Linked DNA regions of Homo sapiens: region 2 is linked to region 1. The links come from fine-mapping of genetic effects on gene expression. A gene starts in region 1. The other region holds a variant in brackets. All regions are shown on one strand. Distances are between the middles of the regions. Region 1 holds the start of RNF122 (ring finger protein 122). Region 2 has its middle 15 kb from the start of SNORD13.

What was found. PIP is the estimated chance that this variant, and not a neighbour inherited with it, causes the effect.
Region 2: its variant is fine-mapped to the expression of RNF122 in whole blood (TOPMed, PIP above 0.99).

The regions. Positions count from the first base shown.
Region 1 is chr8:33,560,537-33,576,898 of GRCh38, forward strand. RNF122 (ring finger protein 122) reads right to left here and starts at 6,592. Exons shown (of 6, transcript NM_024787.3): 1 at 6,163-6,592. The coding sequence starts at 6,187. RefSeq lists an enhancer at 1,002-1,171 and silencers at 5,967-6,016, 6,157-6,206, 6,237-6,306, 6,357-6,476.
Region 2 is chr8:33,520,605-33,536,966 of GRCh38, forward strand. It overlaps the pseudogene LOC100630919. Among named protein-coding and RNA genes, the nearest start is that of SNORD13, 15 kb to the left of the region's middle. The variant C/T (reference allele first, on the strand shown) is at 9,302.

The DNA.
Region 1 (16,362 bases):
GCAGGTTCTTTTTTTCCTTTTTTTTTTTGTGAGGGGGGTCATGTCTCTCAGAGACACCTAGAATTGTGATAGCCAAGCTGTAGCTGGAAAGAGCAGCTCAGTAGAAAGTCAAATGCTTGACCAGGCATGGTGTCTCACGCCTGTAATCCCAGTACTTTGGGAGCCCGAGACGGCTGGATGGCTTGAGGTCAGGAGTTTGAGATCAGCCTGGCCAACATGGTGAAACTCCATCTCTATTAAAAAATTAGCTGGGCATGGTTGCACACATCTGTAATCCCAGCTACTCGGGAGGTTGAGGTAGGAGAATCACTTGAACCTGGGAGGTGGAGGTTGCAAGTGAGCTGACATCGTGCCACTGTATTCCAGCCTTGGAGACAGAGCAAGACTCCATCTAAAAACAAAAACAAAAACAAAACAAAAAAAGTCAAATGGCTGAGGATGGCAGAAGGGAAAGGGAAAGAGGGGAGTCCTTGATGAAAGGGAGAGCTGGAATTTGCTGTTCACCTGCTGCATCCTAAGCACATTCTCATGCTATCAATTTAATCTTTGTACTGCCACAGTAAAGGTTACTTCCCCCCGCCAATGGGAAAAAGACTCAATCATTTAGTAACTCGCCCACAGTCAAACAGCTAGGAAAGCCCAGCTCCAAAGGGTTCTCTGTACCCAGGCCTTGGGTTCTAGGCACTTTCCTGACATCTTGGTTAGGAGCCAGGATGCATTCACATGCCACAGAATTCTATACGCTAATAACCAGTGCTACTACAACTCAGCAGAAGGTGGCTTGAAAGACTGGAAGTCAACTTGGACATCAGTCCTCCTCATCCCTTACTGATGACTATATAACGAGCCTCCATTCAAACCTCTTTCAGGCTGTGCCCAATTCTACTGCCACAGCCCTATTGTAAACACTCATCACCTCCTACTGTTTCCTAGTTGATGTCATCCCTGTTTCTAGTTCCTTCTCTCATTTACCCCACACGCCTGACACATCCTCCTAGTTGCCTTTTTTTTTTTAATTTTTTTTTAGACAGTCTTGCATTGTGTCACCCAGGCTAGAGTGCAGTGGCACTATCTTGGCTCACTGCAACCTCTGCCTCCTGGGTTCAAGTGATCCTTCTACCTCAGCTTCCTGAGTAGCTAGGACTATAGGTGTACACCACCACGCCCAGCTAGTTTTTGTATTTCTAGTACAGACTGGGTTTCACCATGTTGGACAGTCTGGTCTTGAACACCTGACCTCAAGTGATCCACCCGTCTTGGCCTCCCAAGAAAGTGCTGGGATTACAGCGCATAAGCCACTGTGCCCCGCCCTCTCCTTGTCGTTTTGATCTTGTATTTTACAAACTCATGACTGGCTTCAAGTCCTCCTAAAACATTCACCCTGTCCCTTCACAACTTCCTACTTAAAAGTTCTCCAATACTACTCCATGTGGGCCAGTCTTTTTCACTATTTCTTGTACAATCTTGTCCTTGCCTGCTTCCCTGTCTTTGTTTACACAGCTTTCCCTGCCTGAAACGCTCTCTCTGAGGCCCATCAAGCCTGTGATAGTCCAATAACCTCTCTTCCTTCAATTCTACAGCACTCATGACCTCCATCATTTGTTCGGCCCCTACTTACTCAGTTAACTGTCTTACATCGTTCCTAGCATTAAGTTACTTTAACTCAAATGTGCATTAAGCATTGATTATATGGTAAGTACTATTAAAAGAAAGCACAGGCCGGGTGTGGTGGCTCACACCTGTAACTCCAGCATTTTGGGAGGCTGAGGCAGGAGGACCGCTTGAGGCCAGAAGTTCAAGACTAACCTAGGCAACATAGTAAGACCCCCACCTCTACAAATAATAATAATGATAAATTAGCTGGGTGTGGTGGTAAGTGCCTATAATCCCAGCTACTCAGGAGGCTGAGATGGGAGAATCACTTGAGTCTGAGAGGTCGAGGCTGCAGTGAGCCACAATTGCACCACTGCACTTAGCATGGGCCAGAGTAAGACCTTGTCTCAAAAAAAAAAAAGAAAAAGAAAAAAAAAAGATTAGATGATCTGATGATCTTACCACATAGGAAAAAAAGACACAAAGATTTTCACCATAGAAAGTGAGGCTCAGGCCAGGTGCAGTGACTCACGCCTGTAATCCCAACACTTTGGGAGGCTGAGGTAGGCAGATCACCTGAGGTCGGGAGTTCAAGACCAACCTGGCTAACATGGTGAAACACCATCTCTACTAAAATACAAAAATTAGCTGGGTTTGGTGTCTGGCACCCGTAATCCCAGCTACTCGGGAGGCTGAGGCAGGAGAATTACTTCGACCTGGGAAGCGGAGGTTGCAGTGAGCGGAGATCACACCACTGCACTCTAGCCTGGGCAACAGAGAGAGACTCCCGTCTCTAAACAAAACAAAACAAAAAACCTGGGCATGGTGGTGCACACCTGTAGTCCCAGTTACTCGGGAGGCTGGAGCAGGAGAATTGGTTGAACCCGGGAGGCAGAGGCTGCAGTGAGCTGAGGCAGAGGCTGCAGTGAGCTGAGATGGCGCCACTGTGCCCCAGCCTGGGCGACAGAGTGAGACTCAAGAAAAAAAGAAAAAAAAAAAAAAGCCTGAACCCTCCTAGGTTTGCTGACTCCAACTTGGACTTTTGTATATTCTCCAGTGTCCGGCCTAGCCTAGAGTTTGGCTTGTTCTCAATAACTAGTTAACAGATAAATAATTCCCCATTTTCTTAAAATAACCTGGTCCCCTTGGCAAAACCTCCCACTTCAAAGCAGCAGGACTGATGTTTGGGAAAATTGCCCAGAAACTGCCCTCCGCTAATGGATCACCAGTCAACCAGCAAGTATTATTGAGGGCTTGCTTTATGCACTGACCTACACATTGTGGGAAAACAGAAAGTAGAAGTTCTTGTTGTGAAAGACTTTTTGATTAAGTTGAAATGAAAGAAATAATTAGCTACTAAACTTTGCTGTGCCCAACAGGAAGTTCCTTGTGTCTAGGCTCTAGTAGGGGTTAGAGAGAAAGTGCTTTTCACCACCAGTCCCCACCCAAATATTTACTTTCTGTGGGTCAAAGAAGAACAATTTTCCATGAGGACATCATGGCAGACTGGCTAGAGTGACAAACTTCAGTCTATGCTGGAAAAGGGGCTCAGGACTTCCCTTCCAACAAGACCTGGTGCTCCCAGCTGTTTTCTCACCTCCTTCCCCCGCACTATTTGATGTTACAAGAGGGTCTAACCCCCCGTTTCCTTAGTTCTTCCAGGCACCTTTTATGAGCTGAAACCTCCTTTGGTTTCCAGTTCTGGGAACTTGCAGAACCTGGTCAGAGCTATTACAGAGGATATCTGTGCACTCCACAAGCACGATGGTCCCCGCAAGTCCTCTGATCAGTTTATCCCCACCAACTTATCCTGCCTGATAAAGGCTTCCCCTTTATCTCCCACTGATTGAATCAGTGAGCTTGGTATTTCACGTGATAAAGAGGTCGGTGGGAAGAGCATAGTCAAGAGGAGATGGTTCATTTGCTTGTGTTACTATTAAAGAAATGGCAAAATAGTCTACTGGTCAAAAGCTGACACTGTAGTAAGTTTTTCTTTAAAACTGTATAAGGACAGAGAATACCAGCCCCAGGAAAGAGGGGCTCCAGGTAGTTTCTGAAGGGGTGAGGGAAGGGTTGCTTCTTCACAGGAGTCAAAGGACAGGATCTCTCAGTCACTTTTCTAAGAAGTGCAAAGAGGGCCAGACAAGGTGGCTCCTGCAGGTAATTCCAGCATTTTGAGAGTCCGTGGTGGGAGGACTGCTTGAGCCCAGGAGTTCAAGACCAGCATAGGCAATGTAGTGAAACCCTATCCCCAAAAAGTAGATTAATTAATTAATTAATTAAAAATTAGCCAGTAGCCAGGTATGGTTGCACACACCTGTGGTTCCAGCTATGCTGGGAGGCTGAGGCAGGAGGATCCCTTCAGCCTGGGAGTTGGAGGCCGCAGTGAGCCCTGATCGTGCCACTGCACTCCAGCATGGTTGTCGGAGTGAGACCCTCTCTCAAAAAAAAAATTAAAGTAGGCTGGGCGCAGTGGCTCACGCCTGTAATCCCAGCACTTTGGGAGGCTGAGGTGGGCAGATCACCTGAGGTCAAAAGTTCAAGACCAGTCTGAACAACATGGAGAAACCCCCTCTCTACTAAAAATACAAAATTAGCCGGCCATGGTGGCACATGCCTGTAATCCCAGGTACTCGGGAAGCTGAGGCAGGAGAACCGCTTGAACCCGGGAGGCGGAGGTTGTGGTGAGCCGAGATCACACCATTGCACTCCAGCCTGGACAACAAGAGCGAAACTCAGTCTCAAAAAAATAAAAAATAAAAAATAAAAAAAATAAAGCAGCAAGTCTAAAATCTGATATGAAAGGGCGCTGCCCAGAAAGGGCAGTGTTACTGACAGCTGCCTCATTTCTCCCTAAGTCTCTGTTCCATTGTCTCGGCCAACCTATGAAAGCACTGACATCAGAATGTCTCATCTCATCTGGCAGGCTGGGAGCAGGAATGACGTCAGACAAGGGCTGGCCAAGAAAGACCAGGGGATCTGGGAACTGCTTCTCTTTCCCAGCCAACGGGAATCTTTCCCAGATGCTAGGGTGCAAGGGCCTTCCTCAACCCCCATCCTCTGCCCCCTCTCCCACAAAACCGCCTATCACACACGGCTTGGTTCATTTTCAGGAAATGAGATCCGACCAGCAAAAGGAGGAAGGCGGGGTGGGGGGATGTGGGGTATACATGCTACCCAAACCCTGCCTCAAAACAAAGCCTCTTGACATAATTAATCCAAGATCTGGCAGGAGTCTACTCTAAAGAATGATTTTTTTCCCCCTGTAACTAGCTCGCTTGCCATACTGAGAGATAAGGCCAGCTGCTTCCCATCTCTCTCTCCCAGAAACTCTCCAAGCATCGGAACAACGCGGTCAAGACTAGGACCCCAGGAGGACTGGAGCGGGTGGGGTGGGGGGCGATTAGTATCCAAGGTTTTGAAGTGTCCCGCTCAGAAACACCTACCTTTCAGGTAGCTCGCTGAGGAATCAGACTCCAGCCTAACCCAGTATCACCTGAACCTCCAAAAAGCCTCAGGTGAAATGAACTAACTTAGAAGCATCACCCAGGCCTGGGGAGAAATGGGGCGAGGGGTTGTCGCGTCTGGAGGTGTGGCCTTCACTTGGGCTCAGGAGCAGACACCCTAATCTGGCCTTGTGGCCAGAAACACGGCTCCCGCCAGGCCAGCCTCGCACCCCAGGGACAGCCGGGCGCGGAGCTCTCTGCGAGGGTTTATCAACTCAGGAAAACGGCTTTTTTTTAGATGGAGTTTCGCTCTTGTTGCCCAGGCTGGAGTGTAATGGCACGATCTAGGCTCACTGCAATCTCCGCCTCCTGGGTTCAAGCGATTCTCCTGCCTCAGCCTCCCAAGTAGCTGGGCTTACAGGCATGCGCCACCACTCCCGGCTAATTTTGTATTTTTAGTAGAGACGGAGTTTCTCCATGTTGGTTAGGCTGGTCTCGAACTCCCGACTTCAGGTGATCCGCCCGCCTCGGCCTCCCAAAGTGCTGGGATTACAGGCGTGAGCCACCGCGCCTGGCCGAAAGCGACTCTTTAATCCAGTCTTCCGCAAGCACCCAAGCCACGCCAGCAGCCCGTGGGAAACCAACAAAGCCAGAGGAAGCTACCCCCGCGCCCAGTCCCGCACGCTGCACGGTATACATATTTACAATAGCCTGCAAAGTTTCAGGCCGGGAACTTGAGCTCCCTCTAGGAGATCCCAGCCCGAGTGCGGATTTAATTCTCCTCCAACAACCACAACAAAGAACAGAGTTTGAGCGCACAAAGGCAGGGGAAGGGGGTAGAAGAGCCGGGCCGCCACACAAAGGCCGGGAACCCCTCGGCTCCCACGCCCCCGGCCCGCCGCCAGTCCGGAGGCCCCTTCCAGGCTCTGGAGTGAAACCTGGATAGTTTCAAATTCCGCGCTGTGCAGAGCAGAGTGGGGCGCCAAGACGCCTTCTCGACTGTCCCATTTCAGGAGAAACTTGGTTCCCGAGGGAGGACCAGCGCGCTGCTGTCCGACCTCGCACCCCGCGCCGCGGCTCCCACCAGCCCCACGTAGGCTCGGCCCTCGCCCCGGGGACTCACCGTTACACCACTGGAATGGGTGCATCAATGAAGTCGCGGTTGGCTTCCTCGGGCGAACGGACGCAGGCGGGGTGCCAGGAGGGCGGGGTGGGAGCACTAGCGGCGTGAGGGGCCGCAGGCGGGGTCGGGGCAGCGCGCTGCAGCCGCCCTGCTGGAGAAGCCGAACTCCCTCCGGAGTGGGGGGCTTTGACGAGGCTGGTGTTCAGCCCAACAAAGAGGGACGAGGAGGAAACAAACAAAGTCCCGCGGAGCACAGCCGCACGGAGCGCACGCGCCAAGGGCCCCGGGCTGGGGGAATGTGGGGCGCCGCGGGGCGGGGGTGCCCGGGCTGCAGAAGCCCTCGGCCGGGGGAGGAGGGAAAAACCTTTGCCGGAGGCTCGGATCGGGTTCAGCGGCGCAGAGGTGAGCTGGCTGGGGTTCCGAAACTGACACCCGGCGGTGCACACCCCCTCCCTTTTACTTCCCCCACCAGTCCCCAGGAAAACTCCGCCCCTTGTTCGTCACCCTCCCTCCGACCAATCGGAGCCTTTCTCCTGCCCCCGGCTATTATTTGCAGGCCCAGCCTCCCTTCCCTGGAAGCCGGGAGGATCTTCGCACGGTGGGCGCCTCCCACTTAGTCTTCCCAGGCCTGGGGAAACTTCGGTCTGCAGAGAATGGAGCGGCGACGAGCGATGCCCCGGAGTGGGGGCCTGCCTTTTGCCCAGGGACACCAAGGCAAAGGAACAATTACTGCCACATTGTTTTCCGCCTACAGATCTGTTATTTATTTACTTATGTATTTGGAGGCAGAGTCTGCCTCTATCGCCAAGGCTGGAGTGCAGCGGCGCGATCTCAGCTCACTGCAACCTCTGCCTCTCGGGTTCAGGTGATTCTCCTGCCTCAGCCTCCTGAGTAGCTGGGATTACAGGCGCTTACCACCATGCCCAGATAATTTTTGTATTTTTAATAGCGACGGGGTTTCGCCATGTTGGACAGGCTGTTCTCGAACTCCTGGCCTCAAGTGATCCTCCTGCTTCAGCCTTCCAAAGTGCTGGGATTATAGGCGTGAGCCACCGCTCCCGGCCCTCTTTTTCTTTTTTGAGTTAGAGTCTTGCTCTGTCACTCAGCTGGAGTGCAGCGGTGCAATAATAGCTTACTGCAGCCTCCAACTTCTGGGCCCAAGCAGTCCTGCCACCTTAGCCTCCCAAGAAACTGGGACCACAGGTGCCTGCCACCAAGCCCAGCTACTTTTTAATTGTTTTGTATAGATGAGTGGCCTCACTATGTTGCTCAGGCTGGTCTCGAACTCCTGGACTCAAGTGATCCTCCCGCCTGAGCCTCCCAGATTGCTGGGATTACAGGCATGAGCCATGGCACCCAGGACATTTCATTTCTTAATTGGATAATTGCAAAAGCTTCCTAACTGGCCATTCTGATTCTAGTCTATAGCTCAGACTTCAGAGCCTACAAGAATCACTCCTATGTTTGAGATGTAACATGCAGATTCCCAGGCCTTGAACCCAGAGATTCTGATTCAATAAAGGGTGGACCCAGAAATTTTCATTTTAATGTGCCTTGTCTTCCCCACCCCTCAAATTCTCATGCGGCTATTGAAAGAAACAGTGCTCTGATTTCACTCTCAAGTCCATCCCTTCTGGTCACAATTATCTCTGTAAAATGTAAATCTGAACATTTCTTTGCTTGATAACGTTTGTTGGTCTCCAGTGTTTACTGAATAAAGTTCTGTAAACTAGAGTGTGGCATTCAAAATGTTTCAGTCTAGACTCACTCCTATAATCTCAAAACTTCGGGAGGCTGAGGCGGGCAGATTGCTTGAGCTCAAGAGTTTGAGACCATCCTGGGCAACATGGTGAAGCCACCTGTAAAAAAAATACAAAAATTAGCTGGGCCTGGTGGTGCGCACCTGCGGTCCCAGCTACTCTGGTGGCTGAGGTGGGAGAATCACTGGAGTTCGAGAAGTCGAGGATGCAGCTGCAGTGAGCTGTGATTGTGCCACTGCACTCCAGCCTGGGCGACAGAATGAGACTACTCTGTTTCAAAAAGAAAAAAGAAAAAACTATTAAAATAAAGTGTTTCAGTCTAGCCTTATTTGTTTCAGTCTTCCTCATACTCAAATACTCCCCTTCACCACACACTATTCATCAGCCATGAAGCTTTTTGTTGTTACTCTTCCTTGAACATAGGCTGTGTATATTCTTTTTTGTTGTTGTTTTTATTTATTTAGAGACAAGGTCTGGTTCTGTTGCCCAGGTTTGAATGCAGTTGCATGATCTTGGCTCACTACAACCTCCACCTCCTGGGTTCAAGCCATCCTCCCACCTCAGCCTCCTGAGTAGCTGGCACTACAGGCACTCACCACTATGCCCGGCTAATTTTTTTTTTTTTTTTTTTTTTGTAGAGACTGGGTTTAGCCACGTTGCCCAGGCTGGTCACAAACTCATGAGCTCAGGCTATCTGCCTGCTTCAGCCTCCCAAGTGCTAGGATTAATGGGGGAGGCTATACATGTGTGGGGCTGGGGGTGTATCAGAACTCTGTACCTTCTTCTCAATTTTGCTGTGAACCTAAAACTACGCTGAAAAATAAAGTCTTTAAAAAAAAAAGTGTGCATAATGGTAACTATTGTTCTTTCTATTCATTGGCTCGGGGGAGAGATGTGATGGGTAATCCTAATTTTATTAAGGCTCTCCTGCTAACTGCCTCCAGCGCCAGACTGTGAAAGAAGGAGAGCCTTTGAAGGGAAAATTGATGGGAAGTGAGGAACACCTCCCGTCCCACTCGCCTTTGGACTAGAGGTTCTTGGAAGGAAAACACCCTTAAAGGTAGGAATGATGGAAATTCTTCTTTTTTTGAAACGGAGTCTTGCTCTGTGTCGCCCAGGCTGGAGTGCAGTGGCTTGATCTCAGCTCACTGCAGCCTTCGCCTCCCAGGTTCAAGTGATTCTCCTGCCTCAGCCTCCTGAGCAGCTAGGATTACAGGTGCAACAATTTATATTTTAAGCCTGATATTTTAAGCATTCAATAAGATCTCCAGAGGCACTTAAGGACTCCAATTTCGAAAAACTGCTGTATCCCTTCACACTCTCCTCCCTTCGTCCCTCCTGGCCAGTGTGGCCACAGGACCTCAACTGATGGCTGACATTGGGAGTTATATGTTGGTAGAAGGGCTTTGGTTCTGGGCATCTTTGAAATGATTGGTTCAGTCCCAGCATTTTCCTGGACTGAAGGGTTCTATGAAAGATAAGCTGATTTCTCACACCATGTCAACCAAATTTAGATCTCTCACTCCTCCACCCTCACCACCAGGTGACTCAGCTCCACATGAGTCAGGAAGACTAGTTTGGTTTATTGAGGAAGAAACTGAAACAGTAAAGAAGATGATGGGCCATATATTCAAAGCTACTTGATAAATATGAGGTAGAAATATGTTTCTAGGATGGGTGTGGTAGCTCACACCTCAGCACTTTGAGAGGTTGAGGTGAAGGAGCTTGAGCCAGGAGTTGGAGACCAGCCTGGACAACATAGCAAGACCCCATCTCTACAAAAAATAAACATCAGCTGGGCATGGCGGCACATGCCTGTAGTCCCAGCTACTCCAGAGGCTGAGGTGTTCAAGGCTGCAGTGAGCTATGATTGTGCCACTAGACACTAGCCTGAGCAACAGAGCAAGACAAAAGAAAAGAAAAGAAAGAAATATGTTTTAAAATCTTCCATGGAAAGGGAAAAAATAATACTAAACTTCCGGAAAAACTTTTTTTTAAAATTAATTAATTTTTTTATACAGGGTCTTGCTCTGTCACCCAGTGGTGCAGTGGTGACATCTCGGCTCACTGCAACTTCCACCTCCCAGGCTCAAGCGATCCTCCCACCTCAGCCTCCCGACCAGCTGGGACTACAGGCGCATACTACCATGCCTGGCTAATTTTCTGGGGTTTCGCCATGTTGCCCAGGCTGGTCTCAAACTCTTGAACTCAGGCAATCCCTCAGCCTTGGCCTCCCAAAGTGCTGGGATTACAGGCAGGAGCCACCGTGCCTGGCCTAGGAAAGCTTCTGAGGAGTCAAGGGATTCTTTTTATTCCCACTGCCTGACTCCAGCTTCCTCTTAGACACTCCGTGAGCCCCCTCATTTTAAGGCCTTGTGAACATTAGAGAAACACTCTGGAGAGAAGCAGTCAATTCTGTGGAGGTGCATGGGGGAAAAGGCCTGAATCACCTCCTTTCATCTTTAGTAAGACACCCTCTTTCATGGGCCTCCAAGTGTGACCCGATAATGTAGCAGAGAATGGTAACCATGGATGGTTGTAAAAAATGATAAATGGCTGGGGGCCATGGCTCATGCCTGTAATCCCAGCACTTTGGGAGGCCAAGGTAGGCAGATCACTTGAGCTCAGGAGTTCAAGACCAGCCTGGGTAACATGGCAAAACCCCATCTCTACAAAAAGTACAAAAATTAGCTGGGCATAGTGGAGTGCACTTGTAGTCCCAGCTATTCAGGAAGCTGAGGCAGGAGGATGGCTTGAGCCTGGGAGGCAGAGGTTGCAGTGAGCTGAGATTGTGCCACTGCACTCCAGCCTGGGTGACAGGGTGAGACCCAGTTCCCTGCCCTCCCACCAAAAAAACGATAAATAACCCCAAGTAAACATGTCATGTTTCAGAATTAGACAAATTGTGACAATATTTTCCCAAACTTTTAAATTTTGTATAAGAAGCATTTTCAGGCCAGGCACGGTGGCTCACGCCTGTAATCCCAGCACTTTGGGAGGCCGAGGCAGGCGGATCACGAGGTCAGGAGATCGAGACCATCCTGGCTAACACAGTGAAATGCTGTCTCTACTAAAAATACAAAAAATTAGTTGGGCGTGGTGGCGGGCGCCTGTAGTCCCAGCCACTTGGGAGGCTGAGGCAGGAGAATGGCGTGAAGCCAGGAGGCGGAGCTTGCAGTGAGCCGAGATCGCGCCACTGCACTCCAGCCTGGGCGACAGAGCAAGACTCCGTCTCAAAAAAAAAAAAAAAAAAAAAAAAGAAGCGTTTTCATGGGAGGGGCATGTAATTCTTTGAAGGTGTTGAGAGTCGTGCATTGTATATTGGGCAAATGAAGCCTTCGCGTTTTCTTTTTATTTTTTTTTTGAGACAGGATCTTGCTCTGTCTCCCCGGCTGCAATTTTTATTCTTGGAAGATCTAGCCTTCTTCTGTCCAGATACCCTAGAAGTCTCAGTAACAGGAATTTTTTTTTTTTTTTTTTTTTGAGACAGAGTTTTGCTCTTGTTGCCCAGGGCTGGAGTGCAATGGCGCAATCTCGGCTCACCGCAACCTCCGCCTACCGGGTTCAAGTGATTCGCCTGCCTCAGCCTCCTGAGTAGCTGGGATTACAGGCATGCACCACCACGCCTGGCTAATTTTGTATTTTTCGTATGTTGGTTAGGCTGGTCTCGAACTCCCGACCTCAGGTGATCCGCCTGCCTCGGCCTCCCAAAATGCTGGGATTATAGGCATGAGCCACCGCGCCTGGCCAGTACCTAGGTTTTTTTAGGGGATCGATGCAACTCTTGGCCAAAGGTGTTCATAATCTACCCAGCAATGCCCCCAGGTCCTAGTCTGTGGTTCTCCAGGAAAGCAAAGCAGCAATTTCCCACCCTTCCTGTCAGCTCGAAAACCACGTGGAAAGTGCAATCAGAGAAAAAGGCATTGGTGTGACTAAGGAGGAAAACACTTTGTCTCTCCAGAAGCTGGGGCAGTTCTGGGATGGTGCCAGGGGCTTTTATTAATTAAAGTATTTCTTTAGGGAATGCTCTGATGCTTTTCCTAAGTGTCAGCAGAGGCTGGGAGGAAACAAAGGCTATGGAGTTCAGGCGTACCTGGTTTCCCAGGAATTCCGCATAGTCCTGCTACGTTTTGCTTTCTGGAACGAAGCCAACAGTCTGGCCACAGCTGAACCATCTCATGTATGAATGAGAGTGGAGATTTGAGAAAAAAGTGAAGGAGAGGAGAAGACCACCTTTTACTGACCACCCCTATCTGTGCCAAGCCCTGTGCTCAGGTCTTTGGATAGTTTTATTTATTCCTTATCATAACCATTAAGGGATTATCTTTTTTCTATTTTTCTATAAGGTAAAATCAAAGCCCAAGAAGACTAGGTTTCACCAAAAATCACATAATTCTTGCCTAACAAAGATGAGCAAATAAAAGAAAAATCACATAATTCTTTTTTTCTTTTTTTGAGAAAGGGTCTCGCTCTGTCACCAAGGCTGGAGTGCAGTGGCACCATCTTGGCTCACTGCAACCTCCACCTCCTGGGTTCAAGCAATAATCCTGCCTCAGCCTCCCAAGCAAGTAGCTGAGACTACAGGTGCCCTCCACCACGCCCAGCTAATTTTTGTATTTTTAGTAGAGATGGGGTTTCACCCTGTTGGCCAGGCTGGTCTTGAACTCCTGACCTCAGGTGATCCACTCACCACGGCCTTCCAAAGTGCTGGGATCACAAGTGTGAGCCATGATGCCCTGCCGAAAATCAGACAATTCTTAAGTGTTGGTGCCAGAACTCCAACCAATCTCAGTCTCTCTCCATAAAGCACACATTTTCCCCAGCACTAGTTCAGTGATTAAGAGTAAGGCTTGGGGGAGGGATAGCACTAGGAGGAATACCTAATATAGGTGATGGGTTGATGGGTGTAGCAAACCACCATGGCACATGTATACCTGTGTAACAAACCTGCACATTCTACACATGTACCCCAGAACTTAAAGTATAATTTTTAAAAAAAAATCTAAAAAAAAAAGAGTAAGGCTTGGGACCAGGCACAGTGGCTCATGCTTGTAATTCCAACACTTTGAGAGGCCGAGGTGGGTGGATCACCCACTGGGAGTTTGAGACCAGCCTGGCCAATGTGGTGAAAAAACCCTGTCTCTACTAAAAATAAAAAAATTAGCCAGGCATGGTGGCAGGTGCCTATAATCCCAGCTACTTGGGAGGCTGAGGCACAAGAATTGCTTGATCTTGGGAGGTGGAAGTTGTAGCTAGGTGAGATTGAGAGGTGACAGCGTGCTGGCAGTCCTCAGAGCCCTCGCTTGCTCTCAGCACCTCCCCTGCCTGGGCTCCCACTTTGGTGGCATTTGAGGAGCCCTTCAGTACCCCACTGCACTGTGGGAGCCCCTTTCTGGGCTGGCCAAGGCCGGAGCCCACTCCCTCAGCCTGCAGGGAGGTGTGGAGGGAGAGACACGAGCGGGAACCGGGGCTGTGTGCGGCACTTGCGGGCCAGCTGGAGTTCTGGGTGGATGTGGGCTTGGTGGGCCCCGCACTCGGAGCCGCCAGCCAGCCCTGCTGGCCCCGGGCAATGGGGAACTTAGCACCCGGGCCAGTGGCTGCGGAGGGTGTACCGAGTCCCCCAGCAGTGCTGTCCCACCGGCGCTGCGCTCGATTTCTCGCCGGGCCTTGGCTGCCTTCCCACAGGGCAGGGCTCGGGACCTGCAGCCCGCCATGCCTGAGCCTCCCACCCACTCCATGGGCTCCTGTGCGGCCCGAGCTTCCCCGACGAGCGCCACCCTCTGCTCCACGGCGCGCAGTCCCATCGACCACCCAGGGGCTGAGCAATGCGAGCGCACGGCGCAGGACTAGCAGGCAGCTCCACCTGCAGCCCCTGTGCGGGATCCATCAAGTGAAGCCAGCTGGGCTCCTGAGTCTGGTGGGGACGTGGAGAGTCTTTATATCTAGCTCAGGAATTGTAAATACACCAATCAGCACCCTGTGTTTAGTTCAAGGTTTGTGAGTGCACCAATCGACACTCTGTATCTAGCTGCTCTAGGCCTTGGAGAACCTGTGTGTGGAAACTCTGTATCTAACTAATCTGATGGGGACGTGGAGAACTTTTGTATCTAGCTCAGGGATTGTAAACGCACCAATCAGCGCCCTGAGAAAACAGGCCACTGGGCTCTACCAATCAGCAGGATGTGGGTGGGGCCAGATAAGAGAATAAAAGCAGGCTGCCCGGGCCAACATTAGCAACGTGCTCGGGTCCCCTTCCACACTGTGGAAGCTTTGTTCTTTCGCTGTTTGCAATAAATCTTGCTACTGCTCACTCTTTGGGTCCATGCTGTATTTATGAGCTGTAACACTCACCGCGAAAATCTGCGGCTTCACTTCTGAGCCCAGTGAGACTACAAGCCCACCGGGAGGAAGGAACAACTCCAGATACGCTGCCTTAAGAGCTGTAACACTCACCGCGAAGATCTGCGGCTTTATTCCTGAGCCAGCGAGACCACGAACCCACGAGAAGGAAGAAACTCCAAACACATCTGAATATCAGAAGGGACAGGCTCCAGACACACCACCTTAAGAGCTGTAACGCACACCGCGAGGGTCCACGGCTTCATTCTTGAAGTCAGTGAGACCAAGAAGCCACCACTTCCGGACACAAGATAATGCCACTGCACTCCAGTTTGGGCAACACAGTGAGACTCTCAAAAAAAAAAAAAAAAAAAGTAAAGTGTAGGAGTGTGGACTGGTATGTACTCTGCTAAACCTGTTTCCTCACCTACAAAATTAAGGCATGTCGGCAGGGCGCGGTGGCTCACGCCTGTAAGCCCAGCACTTTGGGAAGTCGAGGCGGGTGGACCACCTGAGGTCAGGAGTTTGAGACCAGCCTGGTCAACATGGCGCAACCCCGTCTCTACCTAAAATAAAAAAATAGCCAGGCATGGTAGTGCATGCCTGTAATCGCAGCTACTCAGGAGGCTGAGGCAGGAGAATTGCTTGAGTCCAGGAGGCAGAGGTTCCAGTGAGCCGAGATCGTGCCATTGCACTCCAGCCTGGGCTGGAACTCAGCCTGGGCTGAAACTGGAAAAAAATAAAAAATAAAAAAAATAAGGCTTGTCGTAGAATCTACCACAGAGGTTCTCATGAGGCACAAAATGTTTGAAAATGCTTGGCATGTGCCTGGCACATAAAAAGCCCCCAGTGATGTTATTATTGTCCTTGAACTACATCATGAAGCATTATGGCTCAGAATATGCACTGGGATAGGAGTTGGTAGATTTAGCGTATTAATTAGGATGCAGAATAAAAAAAATTCTGTAAAAGTTATGGATTAGGCTGGGCACCATGGCTCATCCTTATAATCCCAGTGCTGTGGGAGGCCGAGGCGGGTGGATTGCTTGAGCTCAGGAGTGTGTGGTTTTTTTTTTTGTTTGTTTTCTTTTTTTGAGATGGAGTCTTGCTCTTGTTGTCTAGGCTGAAGTGCAGTGGCATGATCTCGGCTTACCGCAACCTCTGCCTCCCAGGTTCAAGCGATTCTCCTGCCTCAGCCTTCTGAGTAGCTGAGATTATAGGCACCCGCCATCATGCCCAGCTAATTTTTGTATTTTTTTTTTTTTTTTTTTTTTTAGTAGAGACAGGGTTTCACCATGTTGGCCAGGCTGGTCTTGAACTCCTGACCTCAGGTGATCCGCCCATCTTGGCCTTCCAAAGTGGTGAAATTACAGGTGTGAGCTACTGCACCCAGCTGAGCTCACGAGTTTGAGTCCAGACTGGACAACATAGCAAAACCCCATCTCTACAAAAGAAGATACACACACACACACACACACACACACACACACACACACACACTCTCTCTCTCTCTCTCTCTCTCTCTCTCTCTCTCTCTCTCTCTCACTCACTCACTCACTGGCTGTGGCGGTATGCGCCTGTAGCCCCAGCTACCCTGGAGACTGAGATGAGAGGATCACTTGAGCCTGGGAGGTGGAGGTTGCAGCAAGCCAAGATGGCACCACTGTACTGCAGCCTGGGGGACAGAGCCAGAACTTGTCTCAAAAAAAGAAAAAAAAGTTGAGTTAATAATGATAGTTAGGATACAGGCTGAGCCACTACGGTTGTTTTAAAATATGTCCACACATTCTTTGATACTCCTCCCTTTAAAAAGTGGAGCCTAGTTCTCACCCCCTTGAGCTTGGGCAGGATTTGGTGACTTTTTCTTAAAAAAGAAATTTATTTTAATTCTTAATTTTTAATTTTTTTTTTTTTTTGAGATTCACTCTTGCTGTCCAGGCTGGAGTGCAATGGCGCGATCTTGGTTCACTGTAACCTCTAATTTTGTGTTTTTAGTAGACATGGGGTTTCTCCATTTTGGTCAGGTTGATCTCGGACTCCCGACCTCAGGTGATCTGCCTACCTCAGGCTCCCAAAGTGCTGGGATTACAGGCATGAGCCA
Region 2 (16,362 bases), 40 kb before region 1:
ATGTTCATTGCTGCATTATTTGTAATATCCAGTGGAAACAACCCAAAAGTCAACTGATGATTGGGTAAACAAAATGTGGTATATACATACAATGGAATATTATTTAGCTATAAAAAGGAATGAAGTTCTGATACATACCACAACATGGATGGACCTTGAAGACATTATGCTAAGTGAAAGAAGCCAGAAACAAAAGGCTACATATTGTATGATTCCATTTATCTGAAATGCCCAGAATAGGCAAATCTGTAGAGTCAGAAAGTACATTAGTGGTTGCCAGGAGATAATGGGAGGGGATATTTAGAAGTTACTAATAGGCTGGGTGCGGTGGCTCATGCCTGTAATCCCAGCACTTTGAGAGGCCGAGGCAGGCGGATCACAAGGTCAGGAGTTCGAGACCAGGCTGGCTAATATGGTAAAACCCTGTCTCTACTAAAAATACAAAAATTAGCTGGGCATGGTGGCAGGCGCCTGTAGTCCCATCTATTCGGGAGGCTGAGGCAGGAGAATCGCTTGAACCCGGGAGGCAGAAGTTGCAGTGAGCCAAGATCGCGCCACTGCATTCCAGCCTGGGTGATAGAGTGAGACTCCATCTCAGGAAAAAAAAAAAAGAAGGGACTAAAATGGGTATAGGGTTTTCTTTTGGGGTGATAAAAAGGTTTTGGAATTAGCTAGTGGCAGTGGCTGCCCAACCTTACAAATATACCAAAACCTACTGAAGTGTACACTTTATTTTTTATTTTTTTGAGGCAGAGCCTCACTCTGTCACCTAGGCTGGGGTGCAGTGGTTCAATCTTGGCTCACTGCAACCTCTGCCTCCCGAGTTCAAGCAATTCTCCTGCTTCAGCATCCCAAGCAGCTGGGATTACAGGCTTGTGCCACCACACCCGGCTAATTTTTGTATTTTTTATTAGAGGTAAGGTTTTGTCATATTGGCCAGACTGGTTTCAAACTCATGGCCTCAAGTGAGCTGCCCACCTTGGCCTCCCGAAGTGCTGGGATTATGGGTGTGAGCCAGCGTGCCCAACCATTAGGTGTATATTTTATTTATTTTTTGTGTTTCTTGTTTTTTGTTTCTGAGGTGTACATTTTAAAACAGTGAAGCTGCTGGTCATGGCAGTATGTGCCTGTAATCCCAGCAACTCAGGAGACTGAGGCAGGAGGATTGCTTGAACCCAGGAGTTTGAGGCTGCAGTGAGCCATGAATGCACGATTGCACTCCAGCCTGGGAGACAGAGTGAGACCCCAACTCTAAAATAATTAAAAATAAATAAAATTGTGAATCTAGTGGTTTATGAATTAAATCTCAAAAATATTTTAGAAGTATTGGCCGGGCGTGGTGGCTCATGCCTGTAATCCCAGCACTTTTTTGGGAGGCCAAGGCGGGTGGATCACCTGAGATTGGGAGTTCAAGACCAGCCTGACCAACATGGTGAAACCGTCTCTCTATTAAAAAAATACAAAATTAGCTGGGTGTGGTGGTTCATGCCTGTAATCCCAGGTACTCCGGAGGCTGAAGCAGGAAAATCACTTGAACCTGGGAGGCAGAGGTTGCGGTGAGCCAAGATCAAGGCATTGCACTCCAGCCTGGGCAAGAAGAGTAAAACTCCATCTCAAAAAAAAAAGACAACTCTCTCTATATATATATTAGAAGTATTAAGGACCCCAAAGAGCTTTTCTTTATGTGTGATGCGTAAATATTCAGATAAATGGATTATTTTCTACATTAGAAATTAAAACTGAAAAAATTTTTAAAATACTCATTTGATTTTTAAAAACAGGTCTGGTGCGTTGGCTCATGCCTGTAATCCCAGCACTTTGAGAGGCCGCGGTGGGTGGATCACCTGAGGTCAGGAGTTCAAGACCAGTGTGGCCAACATAGCAAAACCTCATCTCTACTAAAAATTAGCTGGGCGTGGTGGCAAGCACCTGTAGTCTCAGCTTCTTGGGAGGCTGAGACAAGAGAATTGCTTGAACCTAGGAGGCGAAGGTTGCAGTGAGCCGAGATTGCGCTACTGCACTCTAGCCTAGGTGACAGAGCAAGATTCCATCTCAAGAAAAAATAAAATAAAATTTAAAAAACATAGTAATAATAAACATATTACATGTTAAGGACTTATTTTTATGAAAATAAGTATATTTTTCAAACAGCATCGTGACGAGTGATATTGTTTTACACTTTTGTCAATAGATTTGTAAAAATTTGCAACTCTGTCATATCTGGTTTAATAGGAGACAGCTGGATTTTCAGATTTGTGGCTGCATTCAATCTGTGTTGGAAAATTCTGCTGTACACGAGATAATGAGAACAAAAAGATAAACAATATATTAATATTGTTATAAAAATAGTTTTGACTTAGCAGGCTGCCTGACAGGGTCTTGGTAAGTCCCAGGAATCCAGACCACACTTTGTGAAGTATTATTAGAAACACACACAAGTATTAATTGTTGAAATGATGCAATGTCTGGGATTTGTTTTAAAATTCCCAACACTGGGCAGTAGACACTAAGCAGACCAGATTCCACTTGCTAGTGGGCATTGCTCAGCTTCCTCTGTGACTATGTCTGACAAGTCCAATATGGATGAGATCGAGAAATTCAGTAAGTCGAAACTGAAGAAGACAGAAATGCAAGAGAAAAATCCACAGCCTTCCAAGGAATGGATCGAACAGGAGAAGCAAGCAGGCTTCGTAATGAGGCGTGCATCGCCAATATGCACTGTTCATTCCACAAAGCATTGCTTTCTATTTTACTTCTTTTAGCTGTTTAACTTTGAAGGATGCAAAGAGGTCAAATCAAGTTTAAATGACTGTGCTGCCCCTTTCACATCAAAGAACTGCTGATGATGATGGCTGTGCCAGCCTCTCTTATCCGCCTGTCTGGCTGGCAGGGAAGGAAAGAACTTGCATTTTGGTGAAGGAAGAAGTGTGGTAGGATAGCAGTGAAATCTAGAATAAAACCAAGCTGGCCCAAGGCATCCTGCAGGCTGTAAAATGCAGTTTAATCAGAGTGCCATTTTTTGTGGTTATTGTTCAAATAATTTTAATTATGAGAATGCATAATTTTTTTTTTGAGACTGAGTTTTGCTCTTGTTGCCCAGGCTGGAGTGCAATGGTGCGATCTCAGCTCACTGCAACCCCACCTCCCAGGTTCAAGCAATTCTCCTGCCTCAGCCTCCCGAGTAGCTGGGATTACAGGTGCCTGCCACCATGCCCAGCTAATTTTTTTTTTGTATTTTTAGTAGAGACGGGGGTTTCACCATGTTGGCCAGGCTAGTCTTGAACTCCTGACCTCAGGAGTTCAACACCTGCCTCGGTCTCTCAAAGTGCTGGGATTACAGGTGTGAGCCACCGCGCCTGGTTCAATTTTTAAAATAGGCAAATAAAAAGTTTAAAAACTTGAAAAATAAAATTCTCCATGACAGGGGATGGTGGTGAAGGAGTGGTCAATAGCTAGATGAAAAAGATTATCAACATCTTGACAACTGTAGAAGCTGGGTGATGGATCACAGATGTCCTCTATGTTAATCTCACTTCTTTAGTGTAACTCTGAAATTGCCCATAATAAAAGTTGTTGTTATTAGCTGGGCACAGTGGCTCATGCCTGTAAGCCCAGCACTTTAGGAAGCTGAGGTGGGAGGATCACTTGAGCTCAGGAGTTTGAGACCAGCCTGGGCAACATAGTGAGACCTCATCCCTACTAAGAATAAAAAAATTAGCCGGGCGTTAGTGGCACATGCCTGTGGTCCCAGCTACTTGGGAGGCTGTGGTGGGGGGATCGCTTGAGCCAAGGAGGTCAAAGCTGCAATGAGCTGTAATCATACCACTGCACTCCAGCCTGGGTGACAGAGCAGGTTGCTGTCTCAAAACAAAACAAAACAAAAACAAAAAAATTGTTGTTATTGCCCTTATTTCAATCAATGCTTATTTAGCAGAACAAAAGACCTGGAGGTAGTTGGTAGGAGGAAAAACCAAGTTAGGGACTGGATATGTAAAGATGCAAAGATAAATTAGATACAGTTCCTGCATTCAACAGGTTTTCATCTGACGAGGGGAAACTGATACATAGCTGGAAAGAACTATAAGGAAGACATCTGATAAAGAACCCATCATATTTAATGAGCACCAGGCACTCTGCTGAGGGCCTTACATGCACTTCCTCCTCAAGGCAACCCTCTCAGACTCGCATCATTATCTCCATCTTGCAGAGGAGGAAACTGAAGCTCTGAGAAGTTGAGTAACTCGCCCAAGATCTCACAGCGGAAAGTGGTAGAGCTGCAACTTACACTTCGGTTTGTTGACTCCAAAGCCTGTGCTTTTCATGGCTCCACCCTTTCTTTCTAAACCTTTCAGTTACACAATCCTGGAACATCACTGTCACTGTGTACCACATAAATGGCACTCATCAGAGGCCCTGCTGGCGACCTAAAGGAGCCCACAGTCTTTAGAGAACAAAAAATATTATCAGCCAGGTTGGTCTTTACACTGTACCTATGTCCTCATTCAATCCTCACAATTTAAACTCATGGAGTAGGGGCTAGGCGGGGTGGCTCACACCTCTAATCCCAGCACTTTGGGAGACCGAGATAGGCGGATTGCTTGAGGTCAGGAGTTCGAGACCAGCTTGGCCAACATGGTGAAACCCTGTCTACTAAAAATATAAAAATTAGCCGGGCATGGTGGTGGGTGCCTGTAGTCCCAGCTACTTGGGAGGCTGAGGCAGGAAAATTGCTTGAAACTGGGAGGCAGAGGTTGCTGTGAGCCAAGATCACACCACTGCCCACCAGCCTGGGCGACAGAGTGAGGCTCTGTCTCAAAAAAAAAAAAAAAAAAAAAATTCATGGAGTAGGCATTTCTGTTCAAGTTTGCCTTTCTTTTCTTGACTCTCTTCCTCAAGGTTTTGGAAAGCAACATCTCTTAAAAAGAATAATAAATTCAATGGCAACTCTCCTGTAACTAGCAAATGCAAATAACCATATGTAAGGATATGGATTCAAGACCATAAAGATAAAGAAGTAGGTTTATCACATCACTATTCATAATGCAGAAATGTGAAAACAGTGAAAGCTTGCTCATCGATGGCACATCCACACTGGGGAATTCTCCAGCCATTTTTTTTTTTTTTTTTTAAGAATGACATGGAGCTAAGCCAGATGTCAAGGAGAGGTTTCCATAAGGTACTGTTAAATGGTGAATGTAAGATTTAACAGGCTAGGTGTGGTGGCTCACGCCTGTAATTCCAGCATTTTGGGAGGCTGAGGTGGGTGGATCACTTGTGGTCAGGAGTTCGAGACCAGCCTGGCCAACATGGTGAAACCCCATCTCTACTAAAAATACAAAAATTAGCTGTGCGTGTTGGTACACACCTGTAATCCCAGCTGCTCGGGAGGCTGAGGCACAAGAGTCACTTGAACCTGGGAGGCAGAGGTTGCAGTGAGCTAATATTGTGCCACTGCACTCCAGCCTGGGCGACAGAGTGAGACTCTGTCTCAAAAATAAATAAATAAATAAATAAATAATAATAAAGATACCATGAGTGCTTGTTTACAAAACTATGATTTAAGAAGTGACTGCTCAGCCGGGTGCAGTGGCTCATGCCTATAATCCCAGCATTTTGAGAGGCCAAGGCAGGTGGATCTCCTGAGGTCAGGAGTTTGAGACCAGCCTGGCCAAAATGGCAAAATACTGTCTTTACCAAAAATACAAAAAATTAGCTGGGCATGCTGGCATGCACCTATAATCCCAGCTACTTGGGATGCTGAGGTGGGAGGATCGCTGGAGCCTGAGAGACAGAGGTTGCAGTGAACTGAGATCGCACCACTGCACTCCAGCCTGGGCAACAGAGCCAGACTCTGTCCTCCCTCTCCCCTCAAAAAAGAAGTGAATGCTCTGTATGTGTAGACTCATATATATATGTGTAGGTATAAGATTACCTGAGTAAAGAGGAAACATGGGAGGATACATCCCAGGTTCTCGGTGTGGATGGGTGACCTTGGGCAAATGGTGTTGACATAGGGGAAGGGAGGAGGAGAGGAAGATGGGGGGCTCAGCAAAACAAAAGGAAAGAAAAAAAAGCACTTTTTTTTTTTTACAAAGCATATATGTTACTATATTTAGGTAGTTAGGTAAAATTATGTATGAATGTGATTATGATAAAGATTACATTTTAAAGTATTTCCTTTAAAAAGAAACGGAAGGCTGAAATAAATTCCTGGGAATTGATGACTAAATGGTAAGCAATACGTCTTAGCTTTCCAAAGACCATATGATCAACAATTTTAGATGAAGATTTCTTCATAAGGATAAACAAAAGTGAGAGAAAGTAAAAAAGGAAGTATTTGCTCCCCTTCATTCTACGAATAACAAACTAATGGAATTGAAGCGTGACAAATACACCAACTACAGCTTTCAAGGTTCATGTGGTCTAAACATGGTTAATAATAGGAGTTTGAAACACACTGTAAGGGCTGGCCGCGGTGCCTTACGCCTGTAATCCCGGCACTTTGGGAGGCCAAGGGGGACCGATCACGAGGTCAGGAGTTGGAGACCAGCCTGACCAACATGATGAAACCACGTCTCTATTAAAAATACAAAAATTAGCCAGGCGTGGTGGCACACGCCTGTAATCCCAGCTACTTGGGAGGCTGAGGCAGGAGAATCACTTGAACCCAGGAGGTGGAGGTTGCAGTGAGCCGAGATTGTGCCATTGCACTCCAGCCTGGGCAACAGAATGAGACTCAGTTTCAAAAAATAAAAAAATAAAGAAACACACAGTAAGATAATTACTGCTTGCAGCAGAGCTACTTTTCTGATTATAGGCCAAATGGAAAAATAATATTACAATATTTATCATCCTTGAATGCCTGCTAAGATTGAGGGAACCACTATATTCTTTTGCATATGAGGCTATAAAATTTTTTAAAATAAAAATTTAATATATATATTTTTCCGTAGAGGTGGGGTTTCACTATGTTGCCCAGACTGGTCTCAAACTTCTGGGCTCAAGGGAGCCACCTGCCTCAGCCTCCCAAAGTGCTGAGATTACAGGCATGAGCCACTGCGCTCAGCCTACAAAATTTTTAACGTGGATTATGAAGGTTAGTTTAGGCTCAGGGATATACTAATAATTTTAAAGAATATTCTAATATACTAAACATTTTATTTTATTTATTTATTTATTTATTTATTTGAGACAAAGTCTCGCTCTGTCACCAGACTGGAGGGCAGTGGCGTGATCTCAGCCCACTGCAACCTCCGCCTCCCGGGTTCAAGCAATTCTCCTGCCTCAGCCTCCCGAGTAGTGGGATTACACGTGCATGCCACCACACCCAGCTAATTTTTGTATTTTTAGTAGAGACGAGGTTTCACCATGTTGGCCAGGATGGTCTCGATCTCTTGACCTCATGATCCACCCGCCTCGGCCTCCCAAATTGTTGGGATTACAGGCGTAACATGTTTTTAAATTTGTAGAACAAGCACCAAGTGAAACCAAAATATTTTCAAACAATGTAGACAGCTATATAAACAAAAAAATCTTGTAAATACAAAATAGTCATCAAAGTAACAAAAGTCATATCCATGCTGAACATTTGACTCCAGGTGTCTGCTTTGACTTGGATACAAACACATCACATTGCTAACATTCCCTTACTCCTTCTACAATGATAGGATTGCTTAGCTTCCTTTTCCCTTTTCTTTCTTTTCTTTTTTCTTTTTTTTTTTTTTTTTTGGAGACAGAGTCTCACTCTGTGGCCCAGGCTGGAGTGCAGTGGCATGATTTCGGCTCACTGCAACCTCCACCTCCTGGGTTCAAGCGATTCTCGTGCCACAGCCTCCCTAGAAGCTGCGATTAACAGGCACCTGCCACCATGCCCGGCGAATTTTTTGTATTTGTAGTAAAGATGGGGTTTCGTCATGTTGGCCAGGCTGGTCTCAAACTCCTGGCCTCAACAGAGCTGCCCACTTTGGCCTCCCAAAGTGCTGGGTTGGCAGGCGTGAGCCACCATGCCCAGCTAGCTTCCTTTTCATTCTGTTTTCAGTTTAATATTTGTACAAGTATTTAGCCGGGCGCGGTGGCTCACTCCTGTAATCCCAGCACTTTAGGAGGCAGAGGCAGGCGGATCATGAGGTCAGGAGTTCGAGGCCAACATTGGTGAAACACTCATGTCTGTAATCCGAGCACTTTGAGAGTCCAAGGCAGGAGGATCTCTTGAGCCTGGGAATTCAAGACCAGCCTGGGTAATGTAGTGCGACCCCGTCTCTGTTTTTAAAACAATTTAAAAAAGAAACATTCCAGGATAACTCTAATTTCCAAAAAAAAAAAAAAAAAAGAAAACTAAAACTTAAGAAACATCAAAAAATAAAAAATTTTTAAAAGATGAGTGGATAATTGGGGACAACAGGTGTGGATTTGTTGTGGTTTTTTGATTTGTTTTTTAGAGGGTCTTACTCTGTCACCCAGGCTGGAGTGCAATGGCATGATCATGGCTCACTGCAGCCTTTAACTCCTGGTCTCAAGTGATCCTCCCACCTCAGCCTACCAAGTAGCTGGGACTACAGGTGTGCAGCACCATGCACAGTGAATACTTTTTACTTTGTAGAGATGGGGTCTCCCTAATTGCCAGGTTGTTCTTGAACTCCTGGGCTCAAACAGCCCTTCTCCTTTGGCCTCCCAGAGCACTGCGATTATAGGCATGAGCCACTGAGCCCAGCCTGTTTTTGTTTTAAGACATTTTGCTGAGCAGAGAAATAGCAATTGCTGGAGAGAAATATGGCATATAGAAAATTTCAACAATGAAATTGAATATTTTGGAGCACTAGAGTAAAAAAGTGTGGTCTTATCCTTTGGGTAAGATGTTCTTAGATAATGTATTACCTACCCTAATCAAAAACACTTGTAAAAATATTCTTTCTTTTTTTTTTTTTTTTTTTTTTTTTTTTTTTTTTTTTGAGACAGAGTTTCGCTCCTGTTGCCTAGGCTGTAGTGCAATGGCACAATCTTGGCTCACTGCAACCTCCATCTCCTGGGCTCAAGCAATTCTCCTGCCTCAGCCTCCCGAGTAGCTGGGATTACAGGCACACACCACCATGCCCGGCTATTTTTTGTATTTTCAGTAGAGATGGGGTTTCACCATACTGACCAGGCTAGTCTCAAACTCCTGACCTCAGGTGATTCTCCCGCCTCGGCCTCCCAAAGTGCTGGGATTACAGGCGTGAGCCACTGCGCCCAGCTATTTATTTATTTTTTGAGGTGGAGTTTCACTCTGTTGCACAGGCTGGAGTACAGTGGCACAATATCTGCT[C/T]CCTGCAATCTTCAGCTCCCGGGTTCAAACAATTCTCACACTTCAGCCTCCCAAGTAGCTGGGACTACAGGCATGTGCCACCACTCCTGACTACTGTTTTGTATTTTTAGTAGAGACAGGGTTTCACTGTCTTGGCCAGCCTGGCCACAAGTGATCCGCCTGCCTTGGCCTCCCAAAGCACTGGGATTACAGGTGCTCTTGATGTTATTTTTAATTTGTTCCTCTATCTAACCCATTTCCTGTAAAGGGGTGGTTGGATCTAGAGATAAAATGAAATTTAGGATCAGCCTTGGGGGTGGGGCTGTATACTTCTTACTGTATCACAGGAGGCATGTGATGTCTGATTGTCCCACTTTTACTAATGATAAGACAGATTGATCTGTTACAAAAGTCTCCATCAATCTTTCCCCTGGTGTCTACAGGAGCCATGAATAATCACTGCTTAATTTTGTTACTTCATTAGAGTTACAAAATGGCAATTTCCTAATTCTGTTATTTCCTTTTGCATCTTTACCTGGAACTCTGCTTTAAATAGAACTTTCCCCCAGCAACCAGTTATCTGATCACCCTGAATACAATTTGCACAGGAAAAGCAGGATAAATGCTTGATTTTTTCCTTTCATTAGCCAGTTTTTAGAATAATGAATTTAGTGCCTTAGTGACCTTCAATGAATACCTGATATTTGGTGGTTGTTCTTGTTAGTTTTTATTTTATTTTATTTATTTTTATTTTGTGGAGACAGGGTCTCACTATGTTGCCCAGACTGGTCTACTAACTCCTGGGCTCAAGCAATCCTCCCACTTCAGTCTCCCAAAGTGCTGGGATTTGGGAGGCATGAGCCATTGACACCCAGCCCGTTCTTACTAGTTTTATATGATCTTAAGGAATTTTATACATTTAATGAGTTTTATTCCATTGTAATTATTCTTGTTATACTCAAATCGTCCCATCTTTTGCCAATGGGGGTCTTTTCATTTTGGCTTCTGTGTCCTATTAACATGACTCAGTAGTCATGGATTGCTTCTTTCCTTTCTAGAATGGCAAGGTTGAAGCAACCATGTCTCCAAGAATCCCTAATTCCTTGTAAGGGGAAAGGCTATTTAAGGGCTACAATTTGAAGAGTGAGATGCCATTGCTCTTGAATTCGTATTGATTTTAGTTTTCTAGGTCTCGGTGGATGACACATCTAGGAAATATATGCTCTTTAAAAGCAGAAAAAAATCATAAATTTGTATTAATATTTCCAATTCAGATTTAAGATTTCAGGCTTATACTTCTTTAAAATGAGACTTGTATCTCTCCTCTCTTTTACTGCCCAGGTTGGAGGGCAATGGCACAATCTCGGCTCACTGAAACCTCTGCCTCCCAGGTTCAAGCTATTCTCTTGCCTCAGCCTCCCAAGTAGCTGGGATTACAGGAGCGTGCCACCACGCCCAGCTAATTTTTTTCTGTATTTTTAGTAGAGACGGGGTTTCACTATGTTGGCCAGGATGGTCTCCATCTCTTGACCTTGTGATCCGCCCATCTTGGCCTCCCAAAGTGCTGGGATTACAGATGTGAGCCACCGCGCCCGGCCAAAAATCTTGATTCATAATAACATTAATGTAATTACTTATTTGCTTTATTCTAAAATATACACATAAAGGTATTAAAATAGCAATATTGTTATTACTAAACATAAGATTACCTGGGCGTGGTGGCTCATGTCTGTGATCCCAGTATTTTGGGAGGCTGAGGTGGGCAGATTACCTGAGGTCAGGAGTTAGAGACCAGTCTGGCAAACACTGGTGGAACCCCACCTGTACTAAAAATACAAAAATTAGCCAGGTGTGATGGCATGTGCCTGTAGTCCCAGCTACTTTGTAGGCTGAGGCAGGAGAATCAGTTGAACCCAGGAGGCAGAGGTTGCAGTGAGCCAAGATCGCACCACTGCACTCCAGCCTGGGTGACAGAAAGAGACTCCGACTCAAAGAAAAAGAAAGAAAGAAAAAAACATGAGATTATTGAATATAATTTAAGACTTCTTTGCTATTTGTTTTTGTCTTTAGGGTACACTGAGTAAATAATTGCAATCAGCTGGGCATGGTGGCTCGCTCCTGTAATCCCAGCACTTTGGAAGGTCAAGGCAGGAAGATTGCTTGAGGCCAGGTGTTTGAGACCGGCCTGAGCAACATAGCTAGACCACCCCCACCATCTCTACAAAAAGTAAAATTAGCCAGGTGAGATGGCACATGTCTATAGTCCCAGCTACCTGGGAGGTTGAGGCAGGAGGATCACTTGAGCCCAGGAGGTTGAGGCTGCTTGAGCCATGATTGGGCCACTGCATTCCAGCCTGAGTGACAGAGCGAGGCCCTGTCTCAAATAATAATAATTTCAATCAAATGTTATGTTTCAAGTTACTTGAAATAGGCTTCTTTTCTATATAGCTGTGATATTCATTTTAGATGTCGACTCAACTGGGTCAAGGAATACCCAGATAGCTGGTCAAGGAATACCCAGAAAGCATTATTTCTGGTTATGTCTGTGAGGGTGTTTCCGGAAGAGATTGGCATTTGAATCAGTGATTGAGTAAGGAAGAGCTACCTGATGTGGGCAGGCATCATCTAATTTGTTGAGGGCCTGGATAGAATAACAAGTCAGAGGAAAGTCTAATTCACTCTGTCTTCTGGAGCTGGGACACCCATTTTCTCCTGCCTTTGGACATATGAACTCTAGCTTCTCAGGCCTTCAGACTCTGGGACTTACACCAGGAGCCCACAGGTTCTCAGGCCTTCGGACTCAGACTGAATTATGCCACTGGCTTCCCTGGTTCTCCAGCTTGCAGATGGTATATCATGGGGCTTCTCAGCCTCCATAGTCATGTGAACCAGTTCCCCTAATACATCCCCTCTTATCTACCTATCTGGAAAATTCTGACTTATACAATGGCTATGTGAGGACCTTGATATACGTTTATATGCATTTTTGTTTCTTTTCAATTTTCTAGGAATGGCTTGTCTCTTCTCATATATTATTATTTTTCTTTGTAGAGATAGGGTCTTGCTGTGTTGCCCAGGCTGATCTTGAATTCCTGGTCTCAAGTGATCCTCCTGCCTCAGCCTCCTAAAGTGCTGGGATTACAGGCATGAGCCAGTGTATCCTGCTCATTCACTGTTCAACACACTCAATTTTTCCTTCACCCCATGAATCCAGCAAAACTGCTTTTGCTCAGGCCCCCAGTAGCCTCCTCATTGCCAAATTCAATGGAGTGAAGTGGTATGCCCTCGACTCACTGCAACCTCCGCCTCCTGGGTTCAAGCACTTCTCGTGCCTCAGCCTCCCAAGTAGCTGGGATTACAGGTGTGCACCACACACCTGGCTAATTTTTGTATTTTTAGTAGACATGGGGTTTCACCGTGTTGGCCAGGCTGGTTTTGAACTCCTGACCTGAGGTGATTGGCCTACCGGGGCCTTCCAAAGGGCTGGGATTACAAGCATGAGATAATGCGCCCGCCCTGCCCGGCTCATTCTTTTTTTTTTTTTTTTTTTTTTTTTTGAAACAAAGTCTTACTTTGTTACAGTAGGTAGCTGGTCAGGCATGAGCAGGGCAGGAGAGGGCTCCGCCCAACACACACAAATATCAGGAATATCAGGCAACCATCAGGTGATGATCAGGCAGTTGTTAACTGTCTTTCTAAAATAGTAATTGGTCACAGCCAGTGCCAGGGAAAGGCAGTGTCCTAATACATGGAAAACACATGAAATGTGATCAGTGGCTTCTTGAGAAGACCTCAGGGGTTGGGCAAGTGGGCTCAGGAATGTGCCTGCAGACAGCCCACCCCAAGGGATGAATCAGGGGAGAAGTAACAAGACCGCAGAAGCATGCCAGCGTATAAAACCCCAAGTCAAAAGGTCAAACCGCACACTTGTCTTTCAAGTCACACACTTGGTCCTCGTCCAAGTGTAGGTTCTTTCCCTCCTTTTATTCCTGCTCTAAAGCTTTTCAATAAACTTTCACTCCTGCTCTAAAACTTGCCTTGGTTTCTCCTTTTGCCTTAGGTCCCTCGGTTGAATTCTTTCTTCTGAGGAAGCAAGATTTGAGGTTGCTGCAGACCCCTACAAATTGGCCTTGTCTAACATATTTTGGTGCCATGTGACTCGGATACCTTCCACCAGTAACAACTCTGTTGTCCAAACTAGGGTGCAGTGGCGCAACCATGGCTCACTGCAGCCTTGACCTCCCAGGTTCAAGGGAGCGATCCTCCTACCTTAGCCTCCTGGGCAGCTAGGACTATAGGCACATGGCCCAATGCCTGGCTAATTTTTTGTATTATTTTATATATATATATATATATATATATATATATATATATATATATACACACATATATATATATATATATATATATATATGTATATGTATATTTTGTAGAGATGGGGGTTTCACCATGTTGCCCAGGCTGGTCTTGAACTTCTGGCCTCAAGCGATCCTTCTGCCTCAGCCTTCCAAAGTGCTGGGATCACAGGCATGAGCCACTGTGCCCGGCCTATTTTCCATGAGCCACTGTGCCCGGCCTATTTTCCATTCTGGTACACAATTCCATTTCCAATAAAAACTTAACCCAGATAATGTCACTTTTCTGCTACAGTCCTATTATCAAAAGTTAGAATTCCCTAACATGGCTACTAGGCCCTCCCTGATCTGCTGCTGTGTCTCTTTGACCTCATTTGTACCTCCCTTCCCCATCTCTCACTAAGCTTAATTACATGGGATGTGTTCACCAACAGCCCAAGCTCTATTCTCTCTCAATTTCTTTTCTTTTCTTTTCTTTTCTTTTCTTTTTTGTGAGATGAAGTTTTGCTCTTGTTGCCCAGAATGGAGTGCAATGGTGTGATCTCGGCTCACTGCAACCTCCGCCTCCCAGGTTCAAGCGATTCTTCTGCCTCAGCCTCCCGAGTAGCTGGGACTACAGGCGCCTGCCACCACGCCTGGCTAATTTTTTTGTATTTTTAATAGAGATGGGGTTTTGCCATGTTGGCCAGGCTGGTCTTGAACGCCTGACCTCAGGTGATCCGCCCGCCTGGCCTCCCAAAGTGCTGGGATTACAGGCGTGAGCCACCACCCCCGGCCCTCAATTTCTTTCTTTTTTTTTTTTCCTCAATTTCTTACATACACTCTTCTGTCTGGCCTTTCCCTACCTCTTGTCATTCTTGTGCTCTGAGCTTAAATGTCTCTTGCTCAGAAAAGACCTTCCTTGTCCATCCCTCTCCTCTGGTTTTACGAAGGTAGTCACTGGATACCTTACGATGGTTGGTCCATGTATTAAATATATGAGTATGCTTGTTTAGGCTTCATCTCCCCCATTAGACTGTAAACATCTTGGGAGTAGGAGCCATTTTGGTCTTGCTCATTGGCACAATGCCTGGCATGTAGTAGGCACTCAATATGTGTTGGCTGTTTAATAAGTTTGAGAAGTTTGATTCTAAGTACAATCATCCACATCAGACTTCTCTACAAATTGTATATTCAGTGGGCATCAGCTCTGCCCAGTGAAAGAAAGCAAACCCGGAATGCAGTGCTTGTGACTTAGTACAGGCTCAGTAAGGGACAGCTGTATTAATTGGGATAATGGCAGGGGAGGGATATACACAAACTTCCTTATTTCTTACAGACTTTTCACTTAGTCCCCTTGTTTAGTTGCATGGCTTCCTATGACCTTATTTTATTTATTTTTATTTTATTTTATTGATTCATTTTTTTTTGAGACAGAGTCTCGCTTTGTCACCCAGGCTGGAGTGCACTGGTGCAATCTCGGCTCACTGCAACCTCTGCCTCCCAAATTCAGGTGATTCTCCTGCCTCAGCCTCCTGAGTAGCTGGGACTACAGGCGCATGCCACCATGCCCGGCTAGTTTTTGTATTTTCAGTAGAGACGGGGTTTCACCATGTTGGCCAGGATGGTCTCGATCTCCTGACCTCGTGATCCACCCGCCTCAGCCTCCCAAGGTGCTGAGATTACAGGTGTGAACAACTGCGCCCTGCCCCCTGTGACTTTAGAAACAAAAATAGCATGACTTCAAGTCTTTCATATACACTTTTTTATGTACTCTTCTTAATCACACTCTGAGGCAGTTACTATATCTCCATTTTACAGAGGAGAAAAAGGAGGCTTAGAGAGATTAAGGAACTAGGCTGAGGTCTCCTGGCTAATTAGAGGCAGAGCTGGGTTTAAAACCCATTCTTTGAATTCCAGGGCTAGCTTTGTTTATTCCACACTACAAATTAATCTCATAATGAGGCGTAGAAGGGAAAGATCCCATGTTTTCCCAAACACAGCCACATTTCATCACTGACTCTTGTCAGTGAACCTTTTGTTCCTCAAATACTAGGAACAAAAATCATTCATTTGGAACTGTTCTTTCTTCCTCTGTACGTGCTTCGTGCATTTCTCTTTGTAAACAAGACTTTAAATAAATTACTTCTAGGCCAGGAGCAAGGGCTTATGCCTGTAATCCCAGCAATCTGGGAGTCCAAGGCAGGAGCATCACTTGAGGCCAGGAGTTTGACACCAGCCTGGGCAAAAAATCGAGACCCCCATCTCTACTAAAAAATAATAATAAGAAGAAAACCAAAGAAATTACTTCTAATTGTTTTATTCTATAGGCACATCTCACTTAAACTTATTTACATGCAGATCTTAGTGTTTTAAAGTCTATAAATTAAGTAAAAAACTCCTTAAGTCTCATTTTAGAGAGGTTTTAGTTGTAAAAAGGCTCGACATAGACTTCTTTAGATAATGAAAACCCCTGGCATGTTTCAGGCAATTATTCAATTCAATGTGCACAGCTTCCAGAACACAGAATGCAGAGATGCCCAGAATTAATGGTCTGGCAGCAAGTCTGTTTCTCATGTTTTCCAATCTGAATGTATAAATTTTTAATCTTACAAACCTGTAATGAATGTGTTGGATTACTGTCTTTGCTCTATTGTCAGCATATAAAGAGACTCAGCTTCTTGGCAGAATGATTAAGTTAAGGATATTGCATTCTAACCACAAGGAAACACAGATCTCCTCCTTGTC